Linked DNA regions of Homo sapiens. The protein of the gene in region 1 purifies or fractionates together with the protein of each later gene. This does not show direct contact. Each region holds a gene or a part of one and is shown in the gene's direction. Other genes may lie near its edges.

Region 1 (4,678 bases):
GCGCCTGTAGTCCCAGGTACTCAGGAGGCTGAGGCAGGAGAATGGCATGAACCTGGGAGGTGGAGGTTGCAGTGAGCCAAGATCGCGCTACTGGACTCCAGTCCGGGTGACAGAGCTAGACTCCGTCTCAAAAAAAAAAAAAAAGAACTGAGACCCAAATTTGCACTTTATCTCTAAAAGTGACTTATTGTCTAGTATTATACATAATTTCCTTTCAAATATGTGAAAAGTAGAGCCCCCATGGCACAGTTATCTTTGGTCATTGGAACGTATTTTGCTTTTTATCTTGGGTAAGAGGCAGATCCACATCACAATCAGTTTGAGGAATAGAAGATTCAAATTCTCATACTAGAAAGGCAAAAAGGCAACAATTTATCCATTTTCCAAGTCATGCCAAGGAACATACCATTTCTGTTGTAGACATGGAAGAATGCAATTTTCCTTGCAAAATATCAAATCCACAGAATAGCAGGAGAGGTTTGTAGCAAAATTCTTCCTTGCAGAGGAAGACATCTGGCTAATGTGTTAACCACAACTAAAGCAGTGTTGATGTTTACTAAGCCCATTCTCCATCTCAGTCCCCCCAAATAATACTTTTTAAGGAAAAAAAACCTGGGAAATTGAGAGACATTGGCTATCAACTAAAAAAAAAAAATCAAGCCAGCTTGCAACAGCAGCTTGAATTATGAATGACAGAATTCTCAACAATAAGGCTCGGCTGTCTTCTCAATGAACCAGAAGTGACTTTTTTAAAAGACAGAAAGTGGGGCCTGGTGCGGTGGCTCACCCCGGTAATCCCAGCACTTTGGGAGGCCCAGGCGGGCGGATCACGAGGTCAGGAGATTGCGACCATCCTGGCTAACACGGTGAAACCCCATCTCCACCAAAAATACAAAAAATCAGCCGGGTGTGGTGGCAGGCCCCTGTAGTCCCAGCTACCTGGGAGGCTGAGGCAGGAGAATGGTGTGAACCTGGGAGGCGGAGCTTGCAGTGAGCCGAGATCGCACCACTGCACTCCAGCCTGGGTGACAGAGCAAGACTCTGTCTCAAAAAATAAATAAATAAATTAATTAATTAATAAAAAGAAAGTGATGATGAGTATGACACAGACCTCTAAGTCATTTCAGTTTTTTGAAGCCTTATTGATTGCTTGAAACAGCTGAAACCAGTTGAGGGCTCATGAGGCATAAACATAGACATCTATAATGCTTCCAAGGGGATTTTTCCTGCTTTCTGCAGAGATGATTGTTGGCTAGAATCGCACCATGGTGCCCACGCCCAGTGGGGCAGCATCAGTAACTGTGACCCTGCCATGGTGACCAGGCCTTGCTACACGATTCCTGGAAAGGCACGTGGAAGGATGTGTGGTCATGTTGCATGCAGCTCCTGCCACAGCATCTTTCCAGGGCCTACCGACTACTACTATTTCTTTTTTGAGACAGAGTCTCTCTCTGTCGCCCAGGCTGGAGTGCAGTGGCGCCATCTCAGCTCCCTGCGACCTCTGCCTCCCTGGTTCAAGCGATTTTCCTGCCTCAGCCTCCTGAGTAGCTGGGACTACAGGCGCCCACCACCACGCTTGGCTAATTTTTTGTATTTTTAGTAGAGACGGGGTTTCATTGTTTTAGCCAGGATGGTCTCGATCTCCTGACCTCGTGATCCGCCCACCTCGGCCTCCCAAAGTGCTGGAATTACAGGCGTGAGCCACCGCGCCCGGCCACGACTACTACTATTCTTTCTCTTTCTTCTCCCTGTCCCTCCCCCTTCTCCCTCCCTCCTCCTCCCCCTGCTCCTCCTCGTCCCCCCCTTCCTCCTCTGCCTTCTTCCCCTCCTCCTTCTCCCTCCTCTTCTTCTTCCTTTTCTTCCTTCTTCCTTTTTCTTTCTTTTTTTCTTTTTTTGAGATGGAGTCTCCTGTGTCGCCCAGGCTGGAGTGCAGTAGCACGATCTCGGCTCACTGCAAGCCCTGCCTCCCGGGTTCACGCCATTCTCCTGCCTCAGCCTCCCGAGTAGCTGGGACTACAGGCGCCCGCCACCACGCTTGGCTAATTTTTTTTGTATTTTTAGTAGAGACGGGGTTTCACCGTGTGTTAGCCAGGATGGTGGCAATCTCCTGACCTCGTGATCCGCCCGCCTCGGCCTCCCAAAGTGCTAGGATTACAGGCGTGAGCCACTGCGTCCGGCCTTTTTTTTTTCTTCTTTTTTTTCTTTTTTTTGAGACAAGGTCTCACTCTGTCGCCCAGGCTGAGAGCAGTGGCGCCATCATGGCTCACTGCAGCCTCACCCTCCCGGGTTTAAGCCATCCTCCTACCTCAGCCTCCTGAGTGGCTGGGACTACAGGTGCACCACCACACCTGGCTAATTTTTGTATTGTCTGTAGAGACAAGGGGGTCTCGCTATGTTTCCCAGGCTGGTGTTGAACTCCTGGGCTGAGGCGATCCTCCCGCCTCGACCTCCCAAAGTGTTGGGATTACGGGCATGAGCCACGGTGCCTGGCCCCACCAGTGTCTGGCTGGAGACATCCTGACAGGGCGAATTCTCCTGCAATGCTGGGTAACCATCATGGTTTGTCCAAATATTGAGTTGAAATCTGTTTCATTTTGCTCACTTGGCTGTTTAGAGCATAAGAAAATAAGATTCTTTGACATGTTTGGAAACAGTGTTTCTGCCCTCCCAATAATGCCCACCACACCCACTTTTTTTCCCTTTAAGCTGAACATCTTTCACAGGAGAGGGATCTGAGACTTCTCTCTAGCCTGATCACCCTCTACTGGACATACTCTAACTTGCAATGTCCTTTACAGCTCCCACCACAAAAGCAGAGATTCAGAAAAGTAGGGTTTGGTTTCTGCTCCGAGGAAAGACCACTGTGGACGTGACAGTCTCTCCTCCCCCAGGCCCTCCGTTTCTGTGCCTACTTCTCCTTATGTGATGACATGGAATAATATGTGATGACATGGAGCCAGTGCCTACAGCAGGTGGTGGCCTCAGATAGGCAGAGAAAGGAAGGGTCCAGAGGTTTCTGATTTTGCCAAGTGCTCCGTGCTCATTGGTCCCTGGGCATCTGCAGGAGAATGGAATATGTTTCCCTTGGAGGAAAGGCATGCATTGCTGAGCATTTGGAGGAAGGAATTAGAAAGGGGGCTGATCCCAGCTCTTTGGGAGGCTGAGGCAGGCGGATCACCTGAGGTCCAGAGTTCGAGACCATCTTGGCCAACATGGTGAAACCCCATCTCTACTAAAAATAAAAAAAAAAATTAGCCAGGCGTGGTGGTGGGCGCCTGTAATCCCAGCTACTTGGGAGGCTGAGGCAGGAGAATCACTTGAACCCAAGAGGTGGAGGTTGTAGTGAGCCAAGATTGTGCCACTGCACTCCAGCCTGGCGATAGAGCAAGACTCTGTCTCCAAAAAAAAAAAAAAAAAAAAAAAAATTGGGGGCTGGGCTAGAAAAGAATTCCTCCAAATCCATGGCTCAGTGGGATAATTTTCTCTTCGTTTTGAGTATGTGGGTCATAGACAAGTATTACTATTATTTTTTATTCCGTGCGAGGAAGTGTATAAATGTAGAGCATTTGGTGACCGTATGTCAGGGAAGGGCTGTTTACTTTTGCACCTTTGCCACAGGCCGGCACGGATGGTTCTGGGCGAGGTGAATCTCTGGGAAAAGGGGCCTTTATTGGCAGAGAACTGGTTACTTGAAGCCTGCAGTGGGAGGAGAGGAGAGTTAGAGTCCTGAGTCCACCCACTGTGTACCTGGCTTCAAGGGAAGCTGGTGATTGTTAAAATGAGCCTCTGACAGGCAGCGCATGTTGACAAAGGCCATTAATTTCATTTTTCAAGGTTGTGCATTGGCAAAACTTGGAATTATTCCCTCAAAGTTTTGATCCTGTAAGTTTAGTCTGTGTTTAGCTCCACTGTACTGTCTGGTGAATACAAACCAAACTGAATCAAATAACCCAGTGCAACCAGCTAACTAACCACCTCCCCAGGTGAAAACTAGGAGGGGCAGGGAAGCGGTGGAAAGAAATGGGTTTGTGGTTTTCTGGTTTGTGGTTTTCTCATTTATATGAGTAGTTGTTATGCTTGAATGTGAAGTTCTTACACTTGAGTGTGAAGGTCACCCCTTCACATTGCATAGTGCAATGCAGATTCTCAGGCCCCGCCATGGAAAGTCTGACAGTGTGTCTAGGCTGTAGCCCCAGAATATGCATTTCTTTTCTTTTTCTTAAAGAGGCAGGTTCTCATTCTGTCACCCAGGCATGTGCAGTGGAATGATAATGGCTCACTGCAGCCTCGACCTCCCAGGTTCAAGTGATCCTCCAGCCTCAGCCTCCTTAGTAGCCACAGGCACATGCCACCATGCCTGGCTAATTAAAAAAAAATTTTTTTTCGTAGAGATGGGGTCTCCCAGTGTTGCACAAACTGGTCTCAAACTCCTTGCCTCAAATGATCCTCCTACCTTAGCCTCCCAAAGTGCTGGGATTATAGGGATGAGTCATGACCCCGGCTGTGAATGTGCATTTTTAATAAATATCCCAGGTGATTCTAATGCAGGTGCTCTGTGGGCCACCCTTTTGAAAGTTATGGGAAGAAATTACCTGGAATGTTTTGCTGGGATGACTTCCTTCTCCAGCTGCGTGATACAGATGCCCCTGCTTACGCTCAGCTGCAGGAATCTAGGAAA
Region 2 (3,345 bases), on another chromosome or scaffold:
ACCGCGTTCTACCGTATTTACCCCGATCTACCGTATTTACCCTGGTCTACTCTATTTACCCCAGTCTACCGTATTTACCCCGCCTACCGTATTTATCTCGGTCTACTGTATTTACCCCACCTACCGTATTTACCCCAGTCTACTCTATTTACCGCAATCTACTGTATTTACCCCGTCTATAGTATTGACCCCGGTCTACCGTATTTTGCCCTGCCTACCATATTTACCCCGCCTACCGTATTTACCCCGGTCTACTCTGTTTACCCCGGTCTGCTCTATTTACCCCGGTCTGCTCTATTTACCCTAGTCTACCGTATTTACCCCGGTCTACCGGTGACCTCAGTTGGATGCCAGGCCCTGCTGGGCCTCGTGTAGGAAGTGGACACTGGAGTACAGCTGGGGTGGCCAGTAGGGTTCATATCGTGGGCCAACTGCCCTTGATTGGTAGAGACTGCTCAGAACCCTGTGTTGAAAAGTCTGCGTCTTCACTCGGGTCGATTGGTGATATCTGCCCTGATTACAGGCATTGGTTGATGTGCCGTGTTTTTGCCAACTCAGTATTGGATGATGCTAAAGGGCCCACCCAGTAACCTTGAGTATTAGTGATCTGCTGCTTACAAGACCCCAAGCTGGAGCTGAGTCTCAGGGCCACCAGGGCCTGATGGGGTGGGGAAGCATTACCAAGGCCAGTTTCAAAACCCCGCAGTGCCTTCATGACCCCGCTGGGGAGTGCTTGGTGGCGGCAGAGGGTCAGGAAGTGGAGGGTTGATGGGCGTGTGGGGGGCAGGGCTCAGCCTCCTGGTGCTGAGCCAGAGAGGGACCAGCAAGCGGGTGAGGGAGGCTGTCTCAGGTCCTAAGGCTGGCTCTGCCCCCCCAAGATGGTGCTCCCCACCATGACACTCTCCTCACCCCCCTTGTCTCCTCAGCTGCAGCAGAAGGCCGTGGCTAGTGAGATCTTCAAGGGCAAGAAGGATAATTACCCTCAGAGTGTACCCAGGCTCTTCATCAGCACTCGGCTTGGTGAGCCCCTGACTTTCCAGCACTCAGACCTTTCGTCACCATCCTGGTCCCCCATTGCCTCCACTGACTTCCCTCCCCGCCATCTGAGTTGCAGGTACAGATGAGATCAGCCCCCGAGTGCTGCAGGCCTTGGGCTCTGAGCCCATTCAGGTAAGAGCCTGCCTGCAGCCCTGAGTCCAGCAGCACGGTGCTACTGCCTGAGAGCTGAAGGCAGGTCAGGGCAGGGGCGGAGCCTTGGGAGCCTCTCCCCAGCCCCTTCAGCCTGGCCTCTGTCCCCAGTATGCGGTGCCTGTTGTGAAATACGACCGCAAGGGCTACAAGCCTCGCTCCCGGCAGCTGCTGCTCACGCCCAACGCCGTCGTCATCGTGGAGGACGCCAAAGTCAAGCAGAGGATTGATTACGCCAACCTGACCGGTCAGCCAGGGTCCAGGGCTGCAGGGGGAGGGCCCTGCTCTGACCCTCGACCTCTGACCTTTGCCCTCTCCCCTCAGGAATCTCTGTCAGCAGCCTGAGCGACAGTCTTTTTGTGCTTCATGTACAGCGTGCGGACAATAAGCAAAAGGTGCCTTTTCATGGATGGGGAGGAGTGGTGGGGGATGGGGGAGGTAGATGGGGAGGTGGGGTGGATGGGGGAATAGGGGGTGTGGGGGTGGATGGGGAGGTGGGAGGGTGGATGGGGGTAGATTGGGGGGTCAGGAGGTGGATGGGGAGGTGGGAGGGTGGATGGGGGTGGATTTGGGGGTCAGGAGGTGGATGGGGAGGTGGGGCGGGGGTTCCTCAAGTTCTGGGCAGGGCCTGACCCCTCCTCCTGCCTGGCCCCCCAGGGAGATGTGGTGCTGCAGAGTGACCACGTGATTGAGACGCTGACCAAGACAGCCCTCAGTGCCAACCGCGTGAACAGCATCAACATCAACCAGGGCAGGTGAGGCGCGGGCGGCCCCCGGGGACAGGGCGGGGGTGGCGAGGGGGCTGTGTGGGCACCCAGGGACAGGGTGGGGGTCCACCTTAGGGTTGGGGGTCTGCCTCCATGGAAAAACCCTCACCCACCCCGTTCCCCCAGCATCACGTTTGCAGGGGGCCCCGGCAGGGATGGCACCATTGACTTCACACCCGGCTCGGAGCTGCTCATCACCAAGGCCAAGAACGGGCACCTGGCTGTGGTGAGTGGGGCCTGCTTTCCCGCTTATGGCCTGGCTGTGATAGCCAAGCCTTCCTTGGCTGTGCTTGGCAGAGCCCAGGCACCTCACCATGGGCCTTCATCCAGAGGCCATCATACCACCTCTTCCATCCCTTGGCCCACCCATGAGGGCCAGAGAGAGCCCCTCAGTGCAGAAAGTTGTAAAGGTGGCAGCACGGTGGCTCATGCCTATAATCCCAGCACTTTGGGAGGCTGAGGCGGGTGGATCACCAGAGGCCAGGAGTTTGAAACCAGCCTGGCCAACATGGCAAAACCCATCTACTAAAAAAATGCAAAAGGCTGGGTGCAGTGGCTCACACCTTTAATCCCAGCACTTTGGGAGGCCGAGGTGTGTGGATCACCCGAGATCAGGAGTTCGAGACCAGCCTGGCCAACATCGTGAAACCCCATCTCTACTAATAACACAAAAATTAGCCGGGCGTGGTGGTGCACGCCTGTAATACCAGCTACTAGTGGGGGCTGAGGCGGGAGAATTGCTTGAACCCAGGAGGTGGAGATTGCAGTGAGCTGATATCATGCCACTGCACTCCAGGCCTGGGGAACAGAGTGAGATGTCATCTCAAAAAAAAAAAAAAAGGCCAGGCACAGTGGCTCACGCCTGTAATCCCAGCACTTTGGGAGGCGAAGGCAAGTGGATCACCTGAGGTTGGGAGTTCGAAACCAGCCTGACCAACTGGAGAAACCCCATCTCTACTAAAATACAAAATTAGCCGAGTGTGGTGGCGCATGCCTGTAATCCCAGCTACTTGGGAGGCTGAGGCAGGAGAATCGCTTAAACCCGGGAGGTGGAGGTTGCGGTGAGCCGAGATTGCGCCATTACACTCTACCCTGGGCAACAAGAGCAAAATTCCATCTCAGAATTTGTATACAAAAAAGTTAGCCTGGTGTGGTGGCGTATGCCTGTAGTCCCAGTTGCTCAGAAGCCTGAGATGAGAGGATTGCTTGAGCCCAGGAGGTTGAGGCTGCAATGAGACCCAAGATCTCACCACTGCACTCCAGCCTGGGTGACAAAATGAGACCCTGTCTCAAAAAAAAAAAAAAAAAAAAAAAGGCAGCACGGCAATGCAGGGAAGATACATAGGCTGATTGGGGGTGCCAGGAGGGAGGACAGGCTCACAGGCTCACG
Region 3 (4,678 bases), on another chromosome or scaffold:
TTTGTCTCTAGTTCTCCCGAAGATGACTCGGATACAAAAAGGCTTTCCAAAGAGGAAAAGGGTAGGTCACCTCGGCGACACCAGTCCCTTGGAGCATGTATGGCCTGGGCAGTGGCGGGTATTTGATTCTGGTTCATCGCGTGCTATGCTCCTTACCCAGGAGACTCCTGAGACGTTTGTGCAGTCTTTCTCCTTCTCTGCTGTTACCGCTACAGGTTCTGGGTTGTAGGAAGCATACCAGGTCCTAAGAGTTAACAGGCTGATTTGGTGCAGATCCTTGTGTTGGGAGCACATTCATCCTGTAACCCTTCATTAAATGCATTAACTGAGAAATAATTTTACCCTACCAAATTCCTTCTTAATCAGTGTTCTAAAGGAGTAAAAACATGGGATAGATACAGAGCTATACGTGGAAAGAGAAACAGTGCATTGTTGACACCAAGGTTGACTGTTCTGCTACATGGCCGTTGCACACTGCACTTCCTCCTGTAATTAAGCGATCGCTAACTTTTTTTGAGACAGAGTCTTGTTCTGTTGCCCAGGCTGGAGTGCAGTGGCGCGATCTCAGCTCACTGCAACCTCTGACTCCCGGGTTCTAGAGATTCTCCTGCCTCAGCCTCCTGAGTAGCTGGGATTATAAGCGCCCGCCACCACACCCAGCTGATTTTTTGTATTTTTAGTAGACATGGGGTTTCACCATGTTGGCCAGGCTGGTCTCGAACTCTTGACCTCGTGATTCGCCCACCTCAGCCTCCCAAAGTGCTGGGATTACAGGCGTGAGCCACCACACCCGGCCCGCAATTGCTAACTTTCTTAGGAAACCTCACATTGTCCCAATAGCCCCACTCAGTATTGTGACGGGCCCTGTGGTAGTGCTGCTGGGCCTGGTGTTGCACTGGAGGCTCTTGGTGAGGATAGTGGTCAGGCCCACAGCCCCATTTGGCTTTTAGTGCTGCCACTGCCTCAGGAAAAATGGGAACCATGTCTCTTTTGGAAAGGTTGTCTCTAAGACTCAAGATCTTGTGGGTATTTGGGTTTTTACTAGAATTTTCTTTTGAAATAGGTCGCAGCAGTTGTGGTAGAAATTTCTGGGTTAGTGGACTCTCTTCTACAACCAGAGCTACAGATTTGAAGAATCTTTTCAGCAAATATGGGAAGGTAAGTGCCAGAGCTTTTCTGGAGAAGATACTTTGAAACCAGCGTTGTGTGGCCTTTACATGGAGGTCCTCTCCCCTCAGTGAGTTCTTTGAGAGATACCAAGGAGCTTACACTTGCTAATGGCTGGGGAGGGTCTGCCCGTCCACAGGTAGAGGTGAGAGTGGTGTGGAAGCTTCCAGAGCCCACATCACCACTGTATTTCCCTCCCTTCTCTGCGAGCTTGCCCCCTTCCCTGTGATGGCTCGTGGATCCATTTCTGTGTCCTCAGGACGTCGCACTCAGGCTGGGCTGCCAGGGTTGGCTGGTGGGGTGCTGGTCAGCATGTCTGGGAGACAGCAGTGTTCTTAGAACAGTGTTCGTGATGCTGGAACTCAGAACTCAGAACAGGGACCCTGGAGTCTGATGATAGGGGTCCTCACCACGGGTGTCTTGGGTCCATTGACTGAACCTCACCTCAGCAGCTGGGGGCTCTCAAAGTTGCTGCCTCAGTTCACCACTGGGGGCAGTTCTAGTGGCCTCTTGTCTGCAGCACCTGCCTTTCCTGAGCCCGTGAAGGTGGGGCTGGTGGCACCAGCCCCCTACCTGCAGTGCCCAGCGCAGCCGCCTGGCCCTCCTCCCTGTGCTTTCTCACTCCCTTCCTCCCTGGTGTTTCCCAGACTTGCCTCCCAAACAGCCTCCTGCATTCAGGGCTCCTCGTCTCTCTCAGAGTCGGTTTCGGGGACTACCAAAGGAAGGAGTCCAATCCTTTGTGTTACACAGTGAGGGTTCAACACATTGCAATATAGAAAACCAAGTGTTTTCCCTGATACTGACTTCGAAGAACTTAAAAGAGGATAAAACAGGCTGGGTGTGGTGGCTCACGCCTGTAATTCCAGCACTTTGGGAGGCCGAGGTGGGTGGATCACGAGGTCAGGAGTTTGAGACCAGCTTGGCCAGTATGGTGAAGCCTGTCTCTGCTAAAAGTACAGAAATTAGCCGGGCGTGGTGGCGCATGCCTGTAATCCCAGGTACTTGGGACGCTAAGGCAGGATAACAACTTGAACCCAGGAGGTGGAGGTTGCAGTGACCCGAGACCGTGCCACTGCACTCCAGCCTGGGACAGAGCAAGACTCCATCTTAAAAAAAGAAAAAAAAAAAGGATAAAACTAATTATGTCATTATTACGGACATAACTAAGGGCTTCTTGAGCCTCAGTGATACAAGGTGTGTGGCTGGCAACACCTGCGCCAAGTCTCCCCTACTAGACCCCCTTTCCTGACTCCATGGCGTCCCCCAGCGGGTGGGTGTGCTCAGTGGGGAAGTGTTGCCCTGGAGACTGTAGTGTCTTGAGCGCAGCAGGCCTGATGTGGGTTAATTAGAGGACCGGGCCTCTCTGAGAATGTCCTCTGGGACTAGGATTCCATGTGGCATGATGAGCATGATTACCAGCCTCGGCCACTGGCTGCTGCAGGGCTTTTCCTGAGCCATGGTGTCTTCTGCCGTCAAAGGGCGACCCTAACTGCATCCTGCTGGAGTCGAGAAAACCAGGTAGACTGGAAAGGATGTGTCTACAGTAACTGAAACACATCACTGCGTTTTGTTACAGTCAATGATAGGGCAGATCTGAGTTCCAGAGCACGGCTCACAGACCTTTCCTTGCATCAGTCTGTGCCGAAGTCTTTTTTTTTTCTTTTTTCTTTTTTTGCCCACATTACATCACTTCATAATTTACCACCTACGTAGCATGACTGTATATTTGGAATCATTTCTTCACAAGTTTTAGACCATATTAAAGGAACACTGGCAGAACCCTGTTTGATTTCCCTTTCGTCTGTTCCCCTACATTGCCCTCCTGGCCCCCTTGAGGAACTAGATGAGCGATTAGAACTGGCCAGAGGTCCTTGGAGGAACAACAGCGAAACAGAAGCATTAGTAGCATTGTCCTCCCCAGTCTAACACTTGTCGGACCCCTGATGAGCAGACTTCCCTGTGGGGTGTTCATATCCCCATGCCCCGCTCAGTGGGCTTCATGTCTGAGTCATATTTGCCTGCTTTCCTTTGAGGTGGTGGGCGCCAAGGTTGTGACAAATGCCCGGAGTCCTGGAGCTCGCTGTTACGGTTTTGTCACGATGTCCACAGCAGAAGAGGCCACAAAATGCATTAACCACCTGCACAAGACGGAGCTCCACGGAAAGATGATCTCCGTGGAGAAAGTGAGTGGCCGTTTTCTTCCCAGGATATAGCCCACATTAGGAAATGGGGGTAATACTTGATTCTCTTTTTCAGGCCAAAAATGAACCTGTGGGAAAGAAAACCTCTGACAAAAGAGACAGTGACGGGAAAAAGGAGAAGTCGAGCAACAGTGACAGGTACCCCTCCTTCCTGGCTAAATTAAAGGGGCAGGGTGTTTTTTGTTGTTGTTGTTTTGTTTTTGAGATGGAGTCGCGCTCTGTCGCCCAGACTGGAGTGCAGTGGTGTGATCTCGGCTCACCTCAACTCCACCTCCTGGGTTCAAGCAATTCTCCTGCCTCAGCCTCCTGAGTATCTGGGACTAAGGTGTGCACCACCACACCCGGCTAATTTTTGTATTTTCAGTAGAGATGGGGTTTCACCATATTGGCCAGGCTGGTCTTGAACTCCTGACCTTGTGATCCGCCTGCCTCGGCCTCCCAAAGTGCTCGGATTACAGGCGTGAGCCACCATGCCTGGCCGGGGCAGGGTGTTTTAAACAGAATCTCACTCTGTTGCCCAGGCTGGTGTGCAGTGGCAAGATCTCTTTTCATTGAACCTCCACCTCCCTGGCTCAACCAATTCTCATGCCTCAGCCTCCCGATTTGCTTGGATTATAGCCATGCCCATTTGTGGTTTTAGTAGAGATGGGGTTTCACCATGTTGGCCAGGCTGGTCTCGAACTCCCGGTCTCATGTGATCCGCCCGCCTCATCCCCCCAAAGTGCTGGGAATACAGGCATGAGCCACCACGCCCAGCCAACATGTCTGTTTTTTATAGATCTACAAACCTTAAGAGGGATGATAAATGTGACAGAAAAGATGATGCTAAGAAGGGTGACGACGGAAGTGGAGAAAAGAGTAAGGACCAAGATGATCAGAAACCTGGCCCCTCAGAGCGATCTCGAGCCACAAAGTCAGGTGGGCAGCTCATGAGCCCAGGAGATTCTGTCTTGTTTCTGTGCCTAGTGGAGTTTGTTAGTTTGCTGTGATTAGCTGGCAACGGAAACTGGATTCATGTTGCAGAGGGTTTTTCTCATCTGGGTATTCTTGGTTTTCCACTTACACTTTCCCCGTCTTTTCTGTAGGAAGTCGAGGGACCGAACGGACTGTAGTAATGGATAAATCCAAAGGGGTGCCTGTGATTAGTGTAAAAACGTCCGGGTCCAAAGAGAGAGTGAGTATTAATTTTCTAACTAGGGTATTTTGCTCTTCTTTTCAGTTTGTATTTCTGTGTGCGTCTTAGGGAATTACTAAGCTTCATTTGAAAAAAGCTTTTGTCGGCCGTTTCGAAAATGTAGAAATCTCAAACT
Region 4 (4,678 bases), on another chromosome or scaffold:
TTGGATTATTGTTCATAAACTGCTCAAAAACACTGCTTACCACAAGACCTAAAGTTTCACATTGAGAGCATTACAGCTATGTAGAATCTCAAATGTTGGCTTTACATTTTTGACTCATAATTCTTATCTCGATGTCTTCTGTAGTGATATTCTAATGGAGTTCCTGCTCAATGTCACCACAGCACCAGAATTTCGTCGTTGGGAAGTAGCTGACCTTCAGCCTCAGCTAAAGATTGACAAAGCTGTGGCCTTTCAGAATCCGCAGACTCGTAAGTACATTTCCAGATCACATTTGATTCTAAGATACTGGGTTTTTTAGAAGATCAATTTATAGAAGAAAAAAAATTGCTGTCAAAATTTTTATTTTTATTTTTATTTATTTATTGTTTTGAGACAGAGTCTCACTCTGTCACCCAGGCTGGAGTGCAGTGGCACGATCTTGGCTCACTGCAACCTCCAGCTCCCGGGTTCAAGCAATTCTCCTGCCTCAGCCTCCTGAGCAGCTGGAATTATAGGTGTGCACCACCACACCTGGCTAATTTTTTGTATTTTTAGTAGAAACAGGGTTTTGCCATGTTGGTCAGACTGGAGTTCAGTCTTGAATTCCTGGCCTCAAGTGATCCACCCACCTCAGCCTCCCAAAGTGCTGGTGTTACAGGTGTGAGCCACCATGCCTGGCCAAATGTTTTACTCCTTGAATTTGAAAATATCTTTTTCAAAAATTTGTTATTTAGATTTATTATTCTTTTGTTTCTAAACATTTATAATCATTTTTCATGTTTGATGGTAAGTAAATTGTTTGTAAGATCCTAGAAGTTTTTCCTGTTTCCTTCCCAATGTTTTGTTTTTGTTTGTTTGTTTGTTTGTTTTTGAGACAGGGTGTTGCTTGTTGCCCAGGCTGGAGTGCAGTGGCACAATCTCACTGCAGCCTGAACCTTCTGGACTCAGGTGATCCTCCTACCTCAGCCTCCTGAGTAGCTGGGACTACAGGCACACACCACCGCACCCTGCTAATTTTTATTTTTATTTTTTTATAGAGATGAGGTCTCACTCTATTGCCCAGGCTGGTCTCGAACTCCTGGGCTGAAGTGATCCTCCCACCTCAGCTTCCCAAAGTGCTGGGATTACAGGCGTGAGCCACTGTGCCTGACCCCTAGTGATTTTTAAGAGTTGTTTTGCTTACCCCAAATCCTACACCAGTTTATTGCTGCTGCTATTATTGCTTACTATTGTATTGCTATTATTGTTTAGCCATCTCCTCTTTATTGAGTCTTTCCAAAGTAAGTAACTTAATTTTTTTAATAGGAATCTTTTTTGCATTCATATTTTATGTTTATATAATGTCTAATTATATAATCTTGACAAGTACAACTGGTAATACAAGTCTGTAAGCAAGCGCCGCTGACTCTTGGGAGTCATACAACTTCTGGTGGGAGCAGAAATGTGCAGGAAGAGCAGAAATAGCTCAACTCAGTGGTTCAGCATGGGACAGGCTCCCCTCCACATGCAGGCCTGGGGACTGATGTTATTTCATGATGATGCTTGGTGTCACAGAGGAGCATTATCTTTGTTGCTCAGGATTTCTACTGAAGAAATAGATAGAATAGTACAATTTTAGAAAAGATGACCTATGTGTCCAGAGTGGCTTCTTCCCCACTGGCGGCAGTGAGGCACCAGCCTGCATCTATTCTGCCTGAACAGTTACTGTGTAGTCTCCTGGCTGGTGTCAGCCTCCAGGTTTACGTCTTGAGTCCATCTCCCACACGGCCATTACAGTGATCCTTCTGACGTGAAAGTAAGCCTTCTTATTATCTATGGGATAAAGTCCAAACAGCATATACGTATATGGCCTTGCGTGATCTTACCCCAGCCCACTTCTCTTACTTTATGCTCTACCCTCTTCTCCTTCCAGCTGCAATTCCCATTTGAATCAAATTATTGTTATACTTTATGCCTTTGTTTTGTCTGCTTCCTGTGCCTAAAATGCTGTTCCCAAATGATTTCCCCTGGGAAACACCAGCTCATTCTGTAAGATGGATCCCACATATTACTTGTATTAATTGTTTTCCAATTCCCACTGCCCTTGCCTTGTACCTCTACTGCACTTTTGACACACTGCCGACATTGCACCCATAATACTTTATTTCACAGTTTTTCCTCTTAAAATTTGAGGGCAGGCATTGTATGTTCCACATCTCTGTATTTCTAGCACCTAGCACAGTGCCTCGCATAGGCAAGTTGCCAGGTAATGAGCAACTGAAGGAAATACTGCAGGCAAAAAGGCATTGAAGCAAGAAAGCAGGGAAAGCACCAAGCACCACAGAGGAGTAAGTCCCAGTGGAAGCTCCCATTGGTCCCCTGAAAGCTACCTGACAATCTCCTTATTACCTAGAGAGGAAACCTAGGAGTAAGTAAAATTCAGATTAAATGACTTGTCCAAGGTCACATGGCAAGATGGCGGCAGAACCATAACTAGATGGGGACTTCCCAAAACCCAGGCCAGTATACCTTCCAAGTGATACCAGCTAGGTTAAAGTTAGAAAAGTGGTTTAGGTGGACTCCAGTATATAGAAGCTGCTGCCATGTAATCTTTTTTATTTTTTTCTCAGCACATTCTACTGGCAGAAACTGGCAGTTACTAGAGGTTAAATAATAATAAATTTTAAGTCCTCTTAACATATGAATGCCAGAAGATGACCAAATTTGTATAGGCTTGTTGCTTTCTAGGTTTTAAAAATGTTGTCTTTACTGAAAGTGCATTTCCCTAAATGCTTCTTCACTTATCTCACAGATGTCATTGAAAATTTGCATGCAGCAGCTTACCGGAATGCCTTGGCTAATCCCTTGTATTGTCCTGACTATAGGATTGGAAAAGTGACATCAGAGGAGGTACCAATAAAACATATTTTGAAATGTGCTTGTTTTTCACATTAAATTGAACATCTCCCATTTCAGGTTTGTTTGTTAATTTTTCCTTTTATCTTCTAACTTTAAGAAATTCAGCGTGCTAGCTTTTTCATCCACCTGCTTTTTAACTAAAATTTTATCTGAACAATTTTTGTGTCTCCTTTAAGAAATGTTTTCATGACTAAAGGGACATGATCATTACAGAAAAATTAAAAAGTAAAATCAAACAAAATGAAGGGAAAGAAAACATCTCACATACCTAAAGGCACTCAGTGTTAATACCTGGTATATTTTCTTCTAAACCGTTTTCTGTGTGTATGTATCTTTTTTGTTTGTTTGTTTTAAATACGGGGTCTTGCTGTGTTGCCTAGGCTGGTCTTGAACTCTTAAGCTCAAGCAGTCCTTCTGCCTATGCCTCTCAAAGTGCTGGGATTACAGGCATGAGCCATTGCACCCAGCCTGTGTATCTTTTTTAAACAGTATTTAAATGTTTAAGTATCATAATAGGGGCTGGGCCCAGTGGCTCATGCGTGTAATCTCAGCACTTTGGGAGGCCAAGACAGAGGGATCACTTGAGGCCAGGAGTTCAAGACCAGCCTGGGCAACATAGCAAGACCCTGTCTCTACAAAAAAAAAATATATATATATGTGTGTGTGTATACATATATATAAAATAGGTCCTTTGACTAAAACTCTTTGGTCTCTCTGAATTTGTAAATAAGACTTGAGCCCACTTCCTTAGCTCCTGTTCCATCCTCGCTCACTCATTCACGTTCTTCAGCACACCAGCCTCCGTTTGCTGGCTATAGGGGTTTGTCACATGCCACAGCCATATGTGCATCTTAGAACTTTGTTTCCAAAACATGAAACATTGAATGCTAAATCTACAAGTGTAGATATGTGCGTATAATCTTAATTTCCTATTCCTACCACCCAGACCCAAAAACAAATTTTATCAAAAGACATTAAGAGAAAAATTTGTAATTATCAACACCTTCAAAGTATATCTGACTCAAAAATTCAAGGTTTTTATTCTCGTTTTATTCTTAGTTAGCTGTTACAGAAAACTAAACTGTATCCCTTGCTCTTTTTGACTTATCAATTAACAGTTTGATGCCTTTCATTCATATGGCACTTTTATTTAGAAATTTTAACTTACATCATCCAACTTGAACAGGCAGCCGTTTTCATAAGACTGGACTCTAATGAGTTTTGAAATTTTTCAGAAATCAAATTCACCCTCATGAAGATGTGTCATTAAGTTAGCTAAAACTTAGCAAAAGTTTATCTACAAGGATGGCTATTGTAATACTAGTTTATAATTGTGAAAAATTAGAAACAAGTTAATATCCAGCATTAGGGAACTAGTTAAATAACTTATAGAATGGAACAGTATTCAACCATTCAAAAATATTAGTTGATACATAAAACTCCACAGCATGTTGTCACATAAAGCAATTTATGGATTAGGACATACCAAAAGGTCCCTTTTTTTTAATAAAAGGTATGTATGTATGCATTATAGACAAATATCAAGATGTTAACTGTGATAACTTGGTTATCTCAAAGTTAATAGTATTTTTTAAATGTGTCCCTAGGCTAAAGGAAACTCTAAAGAAATTGGCGCTAGAATACTTGGAGCAATGGCAGCATCAATAGAAAAACATCAATAGAAAAAGAGTATGACTTTCCAAGGTTACTCCATAGGTACAGACACCATTCATTTTAGGGCACGGATTATGATAAATTGATTAAAAGTTCAGTTTCATTA
Region 5 (3,500 bases), on another chromosome or scaffold:
TAAAACGTACTGTAGTGTCTACCACGGACCAGGCACTATTCTAAGTTCTAGGGATACAGTGATTAAATTAAGACCAAGCCCCTGTACTGACATTTTATTGTTGTTTTGAATTAAGTTAATTATAGACTCTTCATACTAGGATGTAATCAACAGGGCTGACCCTAAAGTTGGGAAATAGGCAGTTGTCAAAATTGTGCAATTTAAAGGCTACTGCATGACTTACTTGCTCTGGAATATTTCTGACCTATCTGTCGAAGACTCCCAGACTATTGGGTTATGGCGCTGTTACCAACCTGCTTTGATAAATATAAGTATGTTCCATCATTTATCACACTTTTAGCAAAGAAAACTGAGAGAAAATAAATGGGAACTAGAATTGGACACGGTGATGCTTACCTGTAGTCCTAGCTACTCAGGCGGCTGAGGCAGGAGGAATGCTTGAGCCCAGGTGTTTGAGGCCAGCCTAGGCAACATAGCCAGATTCTGTCTCAAAAAAAAAAAACAACAAGCAAGCAAAAAACAAATGGGACTAGGACTGATATGTTGGTGTTGTAAGAGAAGAGGTTAGCAAAGTATAATTTTAATAGCAGCTATTGTTTTTTCTTTTTTTTTGAGACGGAGTCTCGCTCTGTCACCCAGGCTGGAGTGCAGTGGTGCAATCTTGGCTCACTGCAACTTCCGCCTCTCGGGTTCAAGCGATTCCCCTGCCTCAGCCTCCTGAGTAGCCGGGATTACAGGTGCTCACGACCATGCCTGGCTAATTTTTGTATTTGTAGTAGAGGTGGGGTTTCACCATGTTGGCCAGGCTGGTCTCGAACTTCTGACTTCAGGTGATCTGCCCGCCTTCGCCTCCCAAACTGCTGAGATTACAGGCATGAGCCACTGTGCCTGGCCAATAGCAGCTATTGTTTATTGAGCTTTTACTACCATGTCAGATATTATGCCAAGTGAGTATTTTTGTATACATTAGCTCAATCACTGTGTCACCTCAGTGGTGCTGGTGTTATGACCTTCATTTTACAGATTAGGAAACTGAGGGGCAGAGATGTTAAATTTGCTCAAGCTTATTTGGTGGTGCTGGAATTTGGGTCTCTGCTAGTACTAAGCAGGTAGTAGATACTAATGTGGAAAGAGTACTTATGTGTGTTGTGTGTGTATATATATATATATATACACATATATATACACACCATATATAGTGTGTATATATGTGTATATATGTATACACACATATATAGTGTGTATATATGTATACACACATATATAGTGTGTATATATGTATACACACATATATAGTGTGTATATATGTGTATATATGTATACACACATATATAGTGTGTATATATATGTATACGCAATATGTATTGTGTATATATGTGTATATATGTATATACAAGAGTACTTATGTGTGTTGTGTGTGTGTATGTATATACACACATATATACACACATATATTGTGTATATATGTATATAGACATATATACATATACATATATAGACATACATACATATGTGTGTGTATATATGTATATAGACATATACACAATATATGTGTGTGTATGTATACACACACATATACATATAGAACATATATACATATACATATAGAACATCAGAAGTCTGTGTGTGTGTGTGTATATATATGTATACACATATATATACACACACACACATAGAGACAGACTTCTGATGTTCTGCTAGGATGTGTGACACATCACAGAGGTGGGCGACCTTGGTGTGGGAGTGATGGGTGTGGGGAGTCAGGATAGCTTGTTGGGTGAGGGGTGGGAATTGGGGTTGGAAGGAGATGGGAGGGTATTACTTGCCTAACTACTTGGTCGTCAGGCTTAATCCTCTCTCTGACAGCCCTGGGGTTCCAGAGTTGCGTTTAAGCACAGTGCTTTCTTGTCCAGCTCCTGGGTAAGAGGATAGGCAGACCTGAGGCAATCCTGGTTTTGTCACTCATTAACTTGGTCAAATTATTTCATTTCTCTAGGCTTCAGTTTTCTCATCTATAAAATGGAAGTAACAATATTACCTACCTGGTGTGGTTCTTATGAGGATTGAATTAGATAATAATACATGTAAAACACAGATCACACTGGCTAGCACATAGTGTACATTCATTATTATTGTTGTTACTGTGTTTTTTTTTGTCATGTTTAATGTGGAATTTTCATCGAAAAGCAAGAAGAGCAATATATTAGTGATTTGGTTGGAATCTTGAAGTTGGCTTTTTTTTTTTTTTTTTTTTTTTGAGATGGAGTCTCGTTCTGTTGCCCAGGCTGGAGTGCAGTAGCGCGATCTTGGCTCACCACACCTTCTGCCTCCCAGGTTCAAGCAATTCTCCTGCCTCAGCTTCCCGAGTAGCTGGGACTACAGGCACGTGCCACCATGCCCAGCCAATTTTTGTATTTTTAGTAGACACGGGGTTTCACTATGTTGGCAAGCTTCCCTTTTGATTTATGTGCAAACTGGAATTAGAGAACTACTAGCTTAAACTTTTTCTTTATCTTTTGGTTAGGGAGGGCTTCAACAAGATTAACGACAATTTGCTTGGGTTAACCAGGCAGTATGTGGTAGAGGGAAGTGAAATATGTTACCAGAATCTCTTCATTGACTTTTTTTTAAAGCTTATTTGGGGCTTATAGCATTGTATGGAGAAGACAATGCAGTGTTAAATTTCGCACCTAAATTAGATTGTAATGACTGTTTCAGCTTTTTGTTTGTTTGTTTGTTTGAGATGGAGTCTCGCTCTGTCACCCAGGCTGGAGTGCAGTGTTGCCATCTCAGCTCACTGCAAGCTCCGCCTCCTGGGTTCACGCCATTCTCCTGCCTCAGCCTCCCAAGTAGCTGGGACTACAGGCTCCCGCCACCACGCCCAGCTAATTTTTCTTATTTAGTAGAGATGGGGTTTCACTGTGTTAGCCAGGATGGTCTTGCTCTCCTGACCTCGTGATCTGCCCGACTCGGCCTCCCAGAGTGTTGGGATTACAGGCGTGAGCCACCGCGCCTGGCCTGTTTCAGCTTTTTAACTAGCTTCATTCGGAGGTGATTAGTTAATATTAGTTAAAATTGTTAATTTTTAACGATTATACAAATAGTAAAAATGTATAAATACATGTTTGTATAGATCTTTTTTTTTTTTTGAGATGTAGTCTCACCCTGTTGCCCACGCTGGAGTGCAGTGGCATGATCTCAGCTCACTGCAATCTCCCCCTCCCAGGTTCAAGCGATTCTAATGTCTCAGCCTCCTGAGTAGCTGGGATCACAGGCATGTGCCACCATGCCCGGCTAATTTTTATATTTTTAGTGGAGACGGGGTTTCACCATGTTGGCCAGGCTGGTCTCGAACTCCTGACCTCAGCTGAGCCACCCGCCTCAGTCTCCCAAAGTGCTGGGATTACAGGAGTGAGCCACAGCGCCCGGCCGTTTCTATAGATCCGGTCATTTCTATAGATCTTAAAAACTTTCAAAAACTTAGATTTCTTTAGATAATG
Region 6 (4,678 bases), on another chromosome or scaffold:
TAACATTTTAGTCACTCTTCCTCCAGGGACATACATATGCATTATACACATATATATTATATTAATTAACTATTGTTATTTATATGTAATTATTACTGTTTACATGTACGTGTGTGTGTGTGTGTGTGTGTATAATTTTTGAGATGAGATTTTACTCTGTCACCCAGGCTGAAGTGCAGTGGCACAATCTTGGCTTGCTGCAACCTCTGCCTCCTGAGCTGAAGTGATCCTCCCACCTCAGCCTCCTCGGTAGCTAGGACTATAGGCGCATACCACCACATCCAGCTAATTTTTGTATTTTTTGTAGAGATGGGGTTTCGCCATGTTACCCAGGCAGATCTCAAACTCCTGGACTCAAGCAGTCCACCCACCTCAGCCTCCCAAAGTGCTGGGACTACAGATGTGAGCCACCACCCCTGGCCTATATATTTTTTAGTGAAACAGAAGGTGAGATTAGGCCTGGTGCAGTGGCTCATGCCTGTAATTCCAGCATTTTGGGAGGCTGAGGGGGGCAGATGGCTTGAATCCAGGAGTTTCAGACCAGCCTGGGCAACATAGTCAGATCTGGTCTCTTTAAAAAAAAAAAAGTGAGATTATTCACTTGGGGGTTGATAGCTTTATTGAAATATAATTCATGTACCCTAAAATTTACTCATGAAGTGGACAATTCAATGTATTTTAGTACATATGCTGTTTTGTAACCTTTTTCAATAATAGTATTGTACACATTTTTCCTATATTTATTTATTTATTTATTTTTTTGAGACAAGAGTCTTGCTCTGTCGCCCAGGCTAGATTGCAGTGGTGTGATCTCGGCTCACTGCAAGCTCCGCCTCCTAGGTTCACACGATTCTCCTGCCTCAGACTCCCGAGTAGCTGGGACTACAGGCATATGCCACAACACCTGGCTAATTTTTTGTATTTTTAGTAGAGATGGGGTTTCACTGTGTTAGCCAGGATGGTCTCAATCTCCTGACCTCGTGATCCACCTGCCTCGGCCTCCCAAAGTGCTGGGATTACAGGTGTGAGCCACCGCGCCTGGCCTTTCCTATGTTTTTAATACTTTTCTATAATTTTTTAATGGCTGCATACTGGTGCACTGTCTAGCTGCTCTATAGTTATTTGATTGTTTCCAGGGATAGTTATTGAAAGCATGTGGCCAGTAAGGGGTTTATCGTTGGAATCTGTTGGTTACATATAATTATATATACTTGCATAGGGCCTTATAATCTTTTTTCCTCCTGAATATGTGCACCATTAAAGTTTTAGTATGTGCTTTTTAAAAAGTTGTATTATCAAAATGACATTTTCTTAATATCTTTCAGATTCAATTAGCAGAGCCTCACAGACAATGGCCAAATGTGTCAAAGCTGTCACAGAGGGTGCCCAGGCAGTAGAGGAACCATCCATATGCTGAAGCTTCTACTAGGATCCCAGTTTTGCCGCAGATAATTAATGGACAACTGTAGTGCAGTGATCCTTTACAGGTTTATTTCTTTGTAAAAAAAAATAATAATAATTTGAATCATGTAATATTTAAGGTTATACTATGCCTATTTGAAAATGATATTAGTTATCAACTTTGCAGTTTGAAAAACATGTATTGTGTGTAAAGGTTAAATAACAAAACTATGCAGATGCTCTTAAAAGCATTGATAACCTTTGTGACGAACATAAAGAGATCCTTAAATTATGAGTTGTTGGCTTATCTTCATAAATAATTTGTCTGTAAAATGGATGAAATGAAAAGAGGTTCAATTAAAACCTACTTTTTTCTAGTGCTAAAGAAAAGATTTAAGCACCTTGTCAAGCTGGGTAAATAGGAAAAATACATAATCATGCTCAGATATGTATCTAGGATAATTATAATTAATAATAATCATAGTAACAATGGCTAATGATAATTTAGCTTTATTATATGTGCTAAGCACTCTGGTTTTACATGCATTATCTTCTTTTGTTCTTGCTACAACCCTGTGAGATAGTAGTATTATCTCATTTTACTGATGAAGACTGAAGCCTAGGTATATTAAATAGCTTGCCCAAGGCCACACAGCAAAAGTCACCAACTCAAACCTACTTCTTATTTACTCCAAAGCCTGTTGTTCTTAACTGCAACATATTATTTCGTCTCATTAATGTTGATTCTATAGGTTGTTACTTCTAAAAATTAGTATTGAGTTTAATGGTGAACACATTTTTCTATTTTCTCTTGAATCTGCTTCTATAATGTCATGGTGATTTATGTGGCTTTTTTTTTTTTATAAGTTATACATGTATGCATGTATACTTATGAGACCTCCCTTGGAATGAGGGAGGTCTCAAGAGATATAATTTAGATTCTCATTGATGTTCTGTATTCATTATCCTAACACCATCTGTAGTGTTAAATCAACTAAATTATTTCAGCAATAGGAGACAAAACAACCAGCTTTCATAATTTTTAATTGTCAAAACCAAAAGGAATCAGAATAAGGATCACTGAGAATTTAAAAAAATAAAAAAGGAAGTAAAAATTTTACAATTAGGAGATAATTAAAAATAGATAATTTTTTTTTTTAATCTAAGGTTGGGTGTGGTGGCTTACACCTGTAATCCCAACACTTGGGGGGCCAAGGTGGGTGGATCGCTTGAGCCCAGGCAGTTGGAGACCAGTCTGGGCAACATGGTGAAACCCCATCTCTACAAAAAATACAAAAATTAGCTGGGTGTGGTGGTGTACACCTATAGTCCCAGCTACTCGGAAGGCTGAGGTGGGAGGATCACCTGACCCAGGAGGTTGAGGCTGCAGTGAGCCGTGATTGCGCCACTGCATTCCAGCCTGGGCAACAGAGCAAGACTTTGTTTCAAACAAACAAACAAAACTATGTTCACAATTTATTTGTTTTGTAATCCTTATTCTTTTCTGCTTTCACTAAAGACTCAGCCCAAGTATAGGATGCCCTTTTTCCCTTTGTTTTTTTTTTTTTTTTGAGATGGAGTCTTACTCTGTCACCCAAGGCTGGAATGCAGTGGCATGATCTTGGCTCACTGCAATCACCACCTCCCTGATTCAAGCGATTCTCCTGCCTCAGCCTCCCCGGTAGCTGGGATTACAAGCGCACGCCACCACACCTGGCTAATTTTTGTATTTTTAGTAGAGACAGGGTTTCACCAATTTGGCCAGGCTGGTCTTGAACTCCTAACCTCAGGTGATCTACCTGCCTTGGCCTCCCAAAGTGCTGGGATTACAGGCGTGAGCCACCGCGCCCAGTCTAGGATGTCGTTTTTCTGATACAACAAAGGATAAGGTTTTAGAATAATAGTATGTTACAATATCTTTAAAAACAGCAGGTGCAGTGGCTCACACCTGTAAGCCCAGCATTTTGGGGGTTCAAGGCAGGAAGATCAGTTGAGGCCAGGAGTTCAAGACCAGCCTGGACTGCATAGCAAGATCCTATTTGTACAAAAAAATGTAAAACTTAAAATTGCACAAAATTTGTCACCTGTACCAGCTTTTAGAACTGTTTATCTTATCCTCCTCAGTGATACATCATGAAGTTGTGTGCTTTGCCTAAAATGCCCAGTTACCTGAAATTGTATAAATTCTTGCCAAAAGTGTTTGAACTTAATACAAACTTCCCATCTCTTACCTCTTAGCACTGTGCTCATCTTGAGGGGACATAGTCCCAATTTTGTATTTTATATAATACTGTTAATGAATATGTGTAGACTTCATATGGTTGTGGGTAAGAGAATACTGCATTCAGATAGAAAAGATGCTATATAGCTAAGTTGATCCAGGATCCTTGGGCTACCTGCTAGGCAGCTTGTGGTGAACAATCATAATCTCTAAAAAATACCTTGTCTGGACCGGGCGCGGTGGCTCACACCTGTAATCCCAGCACTTTGGCAGGCTGAGGCGGGCAGATCATTGAGGTCAGGAGTTTGAGACCAGCCTGGCCAACGTGGTGAAACCCTGTCTCTACTAAAAATACAAAAATTAGCCAGGCATGGTGGCACATGGCTGTAATCCCAGCTACTGGGGAGGCTGAAGCAGGAAAATCGCTTGAACTGAGAGTCAAGGCGGAGGTCGCGGTAAGCCGAGATCACACCATTGCACTGCAGCCTGGGTGAAGAAACAAGCCTCCCTCTCAAAAAATAAATAAATAAATAAATAATACCTCCTCTGGGATAAGTAGTGCTCCGTCTGTCTCATGGGCACATATTAGTGTCGTAATGCCAAATACTAAGGTTATTGTAAGCATAAACATTGAAGATAATTGCTAGAGAAAAATAGACTGAAAAAGATGTAAGAAAAATACACGTAGATGAGAGTAACCTGTCTGGTGGAATCATGACATTCTAAGCAGTGAAGGAATCACCAATGAGAAAATCTACAAAGGCTCAAGATCAAGTCTCTTTAGGTGAATAAGGCAATCTAGAAAGACCTTGGAATAATAATACCATTTCCTGAGGACCTTCTAAATAAGTGCCATTAAAGCTTTAAATACATTAAGACTATTCTTCACAAAATCTCTGCTAATAGTAGGTATTAATTGAGACTCAAGAAATATCAAATAACTTATTTATGGCTACACAGCTAGATACTAATGGCAGGAGTGTTTAATTAGAAGTACTTTTACTATCCCAGGTTGCCTCAAATGAAAACATTTTGGACAGCAATGTAAGGTGAATA
Region 7 (4,678 bases), on another chromosome or scaffold:
GCGTCTGCATCCAGGCCCCCTTTTCTAAGTACACAGGGAATGTTCCGCAGGACTTTGAACTGTGGGTCAGGCCTGCCCTGATTGCAGCGTGGGCAGCTATACCCTCCCTCCCGCTCCCTGCCCTCTGCCTGGTGAGACTTCACACTGCAGACACTGGCCAGAAAGGTGGATGGATCTGAGGATTTCACTGCCTTTGGCCCGAACCCTCCCCAACTTCATTCATTCAGTCAGGCAACCTGGCCTTCCCTTCCCACCCCCACCCTTGGGGCCTAGCAACACGGAGCACAGTTGAGGGTGGTGTGCGCTGGACCCACGAAGCACTGACCAGTGCCTGTGTGGCTCAGGAATGAAGGGTCCAAAAGGGAGGCTCTTAGTTCTGTGGCATGTCATCCCAGGGTGGCTTTCTGCTTGAATCCAAGTCTAGTATCTGAGATGCCCATCCTTGAAAGGAGGTGTAAAGATGCATTGTACCATCTTCTGGGCTGGGGATTGTCCCACATTGCTGGTTCTTCCACGTTTTGCAAGAATAGCAATTCCCTTTCAGTCCCCTAGGTCACGTGTGTGAAGACAGTAAACGCTGTCATTTTTCTGCAGAAAACTCACTGGTAAAAACAGAGTCTTGAGTACTTTTTCATTTCTTTTGGCCTAGTGTGCTTTGTAGATGCTAGCTTTGCTGAGAGCGGCAGGCCGGTTACAGAGCCTCCGACCAGCCCCCAGGCACGCGTGTACATCCGTGTACACGCGTGCTCACAAGGGTAACAGGCAGAGCCCCACACTGCCACGCTCGGGGTACAGAGAGGCCGACACTGGATTCACCAGTTTGGTTTGTTTTGGTTCATGTACCCTCCCCAAGATGGAGAAGGCCAACGCTCGGATGAAGCAGCTTAAACGCCAGCTGGAGGAAGCAGAAGAAGAAGCGACGCGTGCCAACGCATCTCGGCGTAAACTCCAGCGGGAACTGGATGATGCCACCGAGGCCAACGAGGGCCTGAGCCGCGAGGTCAGCACCCTGAAGAACCGGCTGAGGTGAGCAGGCATGCGGCCCCGAGCTGACAGGCAGCTGCTTTGTGGGTTAGCTTAGGCTCGGGGTGCAGCTGGTCAGAGGAAGTTTACTTAGATCCATACCCAGTGACCCATTCTTTCTCCCGAACCACTTCATTTAAGATTTCTGACCTTTATAGTCGTCCTTGGGGAGAATAAAAGAGGAGGCGGCCCTATTCATTGCCAGTCACTAGAGGACCACACTAATCCACCACACCAGGCTGGAGCTGGGTCAGGCATCCATCCCTGTCCAGATATCCATTAGTGAAGTGAGCTCCCAGCCTCTCTTAAAAAGCAGGGCAGGAGCTCCTCCTGGGACCTGGTGCCATCAGCCCTCCTCAGCACCGTCCTCCTCACCACAATGGATCTGCTCTGTACCAGTGAGAGGGCAGAGCGTGAGAGAGCTACAGCTGAAGTCTCTGCCCCAGAAGACCAGGTCGGCGGAGGTTTCAGCACATCTGGCCAATGGGCAGATTTGGTGCATACCCTGCTTTTATACAGCCATCAAACTAAGCATGGTTTCTACATTTTTAAATGGTTATAAAAACGCCGAAACAAAGAATATGCAACAGAGTCCCTATGTGGCCCACTTTGCTATCTGGCTGATTCCCTGGTTAGCAGGTAGAGCTTGGCCTTAATCCGTCTTCCTTACCATTTCCATCACACAGTCCTAGGCTGAATCAAGTCCTCCCCAGTTCTCCAAGGACCCTGCTTCGCGTACTCTGCAGGCAGGGTTGTGGGAGAGGCAGAAAAGCACGCAGTCCTTCCCCATCGTACCGCCACCCCCACAAGGTCGTGTGTCCGAGGAGGGGGTGCAAGGGGAAGGTTCCGTGGCATTGAGTGGTTGAACATATTGACAGCCATGTGCTCCTGTCTGTTTACCCACACACATCTGCTTCCTGTGTTCTCCAGGCGGGGTGGCCCCATCAGCTTCTCTTCCAGCCGATCTGGCCGGCGCCAGCTGCACCTTGAAGGAGCTTCCCTGGAGCTCTCCGACGATGACACAGAAAGTAAGACCAGTGATGTCAACGAGACGCAGCCACCCCAGTCAGAGTAAAGTTGCAGGAAGCCAGAGGAGGCAATACAGTGGGACAGTTAGGAATGCACCCGGGGCCTCCTGCAGATTTCGGAAATTGGCAAGCTACGGGATTCCTTCCTGAAAGATCAACTGTGTCTTAAGGCTCTCCAGCCTATGCATACTGTATCCTGCTTCAGACTTAGGTACAATTGCTCCCCTTTTTATATATAGACACACACAGGACACATATATTAAACAGATTGTTTCATCATTGCATCTATTTTCCATATAGTCATCAAGAGACCATTTTATAAAACATGGTAAGACCCTTTTTAAAACAAACTCCAGGCCCTTGGTTGCGGGTCGCTGGGTTATTGGGGCAGCGCCGTGGTCGTCACTCAGTCGCTCTGCATGCTCTCTGTCATACAGACAGGTAACCTAGTTCTGTGTTCACGTGGCCCCCGACTCCTCAGCCACATCAAGTCTCCTAGACCACTGTGGACTCTAAACTGCACTTGTCTCTCTCATTTCCTTCAAATAATGATCAATGCTATTTCAGTGAGCAAACTGTGAAAGGGGCTTTGGAAAGAGTAGGAGGGGTGGGCTGGATCGGAAGCAACACCCATTTGGGGTTACCATGTCCATCCCCCAAGGGGGGCCCTGCCCCTCGAGTCGATGGTGTCCCGCATCTACTCATGTGAACTGGCCTTGGCGAGGGCTGGTCTGTGCATAGAAGGGATAGTGGCCACACTGCAGCTGAGGCCCCAGGTGGCAGCCATGGATCATGTAGACTTCCAGATGGTCTCCCGAACCGCCTGGCTCTGCCGGCGCCCTCCTCACGTCAGGAGCAAGCAGCCGTGGACCCCTAAGCCGAGCTGGTGGAAGGCCCCTCCCCATCGCCAGCCGGGCCCTCATGCTGACCTTGCAAATTCAGCCGCTGCTTTGAGCCCAAAATGGGAATATTGGTTTTGTGTCCGAGGCTTGTTCCAAGTTTGTCAATGAGGTTTATGGAGCCTCCAGAACAGATGCCATCTTCCTGAATGTTGACATGCCAGTGGGTGTGACTCCTTCATTTTTCCTTCTCCCTTCCCTTTGGACAGTGTTACAGTGAACACTTAGCATCCTGTTTTTGGTTGGTAGTTAAGCAAACTGACATTACGGAAAGTGCCTTAGACACTACAGTACTAAGACAATGTTGAATATATCATTCGCCTCTATAACAATTTAATGTATTCAGTTTTGACTGTGCTTCATATCATGTACCTCTCTAGTCAAAGTGGTATTACAGACATTCAGTGACAATGAATCAGTGTTAATTCTAAATCCTTGATCCTCTGCAATGTGCTTGAAAACACAAACCTTTTGGGTTAAAAGCTTTAACATCTATTAGGAAGAATTTGTCCTGTGGGTTTGGAATCTTGGATTTTCCCCCTTTATGAACTGTACTGGCTGTTGACCACCAGACACCTGACCGCAAATATCTTTTCTTGTATTCCCATATTTCTAGACAATGATTTTTGTAAGACAATAAATTTATTCATTATAGATATTTGCGCCTGCTCTGTTTACTTGAAGAAAAAAGCACCCGTGGAGAATAAAGAGACCTCAATAAACAAGAATAATCATGTGAACGTGGAATCTGTTTTCTCACCTTCTGTTCTCGATTTCCCATCTGTGATCTGACTGGAGGGTGGGTGCTACACACCAACTTCAAATGATGGCGCCAGGCCCTTTTTGCTGAGGGCGCTGTCTCCCAGGTCAGACGACAGAATAATTCTCAGGCCAGTCCTGGCTCCAACTCTTGTTCCTGCCAGTGCCTCACAGGATGCACACGCACTAGGAAGGGAAAGACCACCCAAAGGCAGGAGCTGGCCCACCTGTCAAGGGAGTGATTTAGGAGGGCTCTGGTCACCAGCCAATGAAGCTCACTGCTGGGTTAGGACATTTTCAGGGGTCCAGGACATTTCAGGCTGCATTTTCAGGCAGACACGCATTGAAGATGCTTTTGGAGGATTCAGTGATGAGGCCAAGGGCAGCCTCTCTAGTGCGGGCCAACTAGGATGAGAGAAATACTAGGGCAGCACAGAATCAAACAGAGAATGCCGATTTCTTGTTCCATAATATTCTCCGGTTAGACTGGTTCTGGGGGTAAGGGGTCTATGACTAGGCTTCTTGGCAGCAGTAGAAACGTGTGAAATGGGCCGAAGTGCCCTCTTCCTCCTGTGCCACTACCATAGGAGAGGAAAGGTGAGTCACAGGTATGGTGCTTCAGCAGGGCTCCCACCCCCACATCCAGTATCTTATCCAAGAGTGTACAGAATTCAGAGGCTTGTTTTTCTCAAAAAGTAAGAACTCTGGGCTGGGCATGGTGCTCACGCCTGTAATCCCGGCACTTTGGGAGGCCAAAGCAGGTGGATCATTTGAGGTCAGAAGTTCGAATCCAGCCTGGCCAACATGGTGAAACACCGTCTCTACTAAAAATACAAAAATTAGCCAGGTGTGGTGGTGCACACCTGTAGTCCCAGCTACTTGGGGGGCTGAGGCATGAAAATCACTTGAACCTGGGAGGTGGAGGCTGCAGTGAGCCGAGATCACACCACTGCACTCCAGCCTGGGTGA

What was found.
Region 2: the proteins of FBP1 (region 1) and MYO1C purify together in Homo sapiens (affinity purification with mass spectrometry, with the first as the bait; one large-scale study listed by BioGRID). This does not show direct contact.
Region 3: the proteins of FBP1 (region 1) and SAFB purify together in Homo sapiens (affinity purification with mass spectrometry, with the first as the bait; one large-scale study listed by BioGRID). This does not show direct contact.
Region 4: the proteins of FBP1 (region 1) and UQCRC2 purify together in Homo sapiens (affinity purification with mass spectrometry, with the first as the bait; one large-scale study listed by BioGRID). This does not show direct contact.
Region 5: the proteins of FBP1 (region 1) and MYO6 purify together in Homo sapiens (affinity purification with mass spectrometry, with the first as the bait; one large-scale study listed by BioGRID). This does not show direct contact.
Region 6: the proteins of FBP1 (region 1) and NDUFS1 purify together in Homo sapiens (affinity purification with mass spectrometry, with the first as the bait; one large-scale study listed by BioGRID). This does not show direct contact.
Region 7: the proteins of FBP1 (region 1) and MYH10 purify together in Homo sapiens (affinity purification with mass spectrometry, with the first as the bait; one large-scale study listed by BioGRID). This does not show direct contact.

Annotation. Positions count from the first base shown.
Region 1 is NC_000009.12:94,611,297-94,615,974, reverse strand, and holds part of FBP1 (fructose-1,6-bisphosphatase 1), read left to right. Parts: intron 1-4,678. UniProt on the Homo sapiens protein: Catalyzes the hydrolysis of fructose 1,6-bisphosphate to fructose 6-phosphate in the presence of divalent cations, acting as a rate-limiting enzyme in gluconeogenesis. Plays a role in regulating glucose sensing and insulin secretion of pancreatic beta-cells.
Region 2 is NC_000017.11:1,466,078-1,469,422, reverse strand, and holds part of MYO1C (unconventional myosin-Ic), read left to right. Parts: intron 1-926; coding exon 927-1,020; intron 1,021-1,114; coding exon 1,115-1,170; intron 1,171-1,299; coding exon 1,300-1,435; intron 1,436-1,512; coding exon 1,513-1,583; intron 1,584-1,845; coding exon 1,846-1,943; intron 1,944-2,081; coding exon 2,082-2,181; intron 2,182-3,345.
Region 3 is NC_000019.10:5,649,915-5,654,592, forward strand, and holds part of SAFB (scaffold attachment factor B1), read left to right. Parts: intron 1-11; coding exon 12-61; intron 62-1,063; coding exon 1,064-1,158; intron 1,159-3,200; coding exon 3,201-3,350; intron 3,351-3,423; coding exon 3,424-3,506; intron 3,507-4,146; coding exon 4,147-4,286; intron 4,287-4,453; coding exon 4,454-4,542; intron 4,543-4,678. UniProt on the Homo sapiens protein: Binds to scaffold/matrix attachment region (S/MAR) DNA and forms a molecular assembly point to allow the formation of a 'transcriptosomal' complex (consisting of SR proteins and RNA polymerase II) coupling transcription and RNA processing.
Region 4 is NC_000016.10:21,962,617-21,967,294, forward strand, and holds part of UQCRC2 (cytochrome b-c1 complex subunit 2, mitochondrial precursor), read left to right. Parts: intron 1-144; coding exon 145-269; intron 270-2,791; coding exon 2,792-2,889; intron 2,890-4,678. UniProt on the Homo sapiens protein: Component of the ubiquinol-cytochrome c oxidoreductase, a multisubunit transmembrane complex that is part of the mitochondrial electron transport chain which drives oxidative phosphorylation.
Region 5 is NC_000006.12:75,755,739-75,759,238, forward strand, and holds part of MYO6 (unconventional myosin-VI), read left to right. Parts: intron 1-3,500. UniProt on the Homo sapiens protein: Myosins are actin-based motor molecules with ATPase activity. Unconventional myosins serve in intracellular movements. Myosin 6 is a reverse-direction motor protein that moves towards the minus-end of actin filaments.
Region 6 is NC_000002.12:206,120,924-206,125,601, reverse strand, and holds part of NDUFS1 (NADH-ubiquinone oxidoreductase 75 kDa subunit, mitochondrial isoform 1 precursor), read left to right. Parts: intron 1-1,325; coding exon 1,326-1,417; 3' UTR 1,418-4,678.
Region 7 is NC_000017.11:8,473,224-8,477,901, reverse strand, and holds the end of MYH10 (myosin-10), read left to right. Parts: intron 1-853; coding exon 854-1,026; intron 1,027-1,953; coding exon 1,954-2,098; 3' UTR 2,099-3,678; downstream 3,679-4,678. UniProt on the Homo sapiens protein: Cellular myosin that appears to play a role in cytokinesis, cell shape, and specialized functions such as secretion and capping. Involved with LARP6 in the stabilization of type I collagen mRNAs for CO1A1 and CO1A2.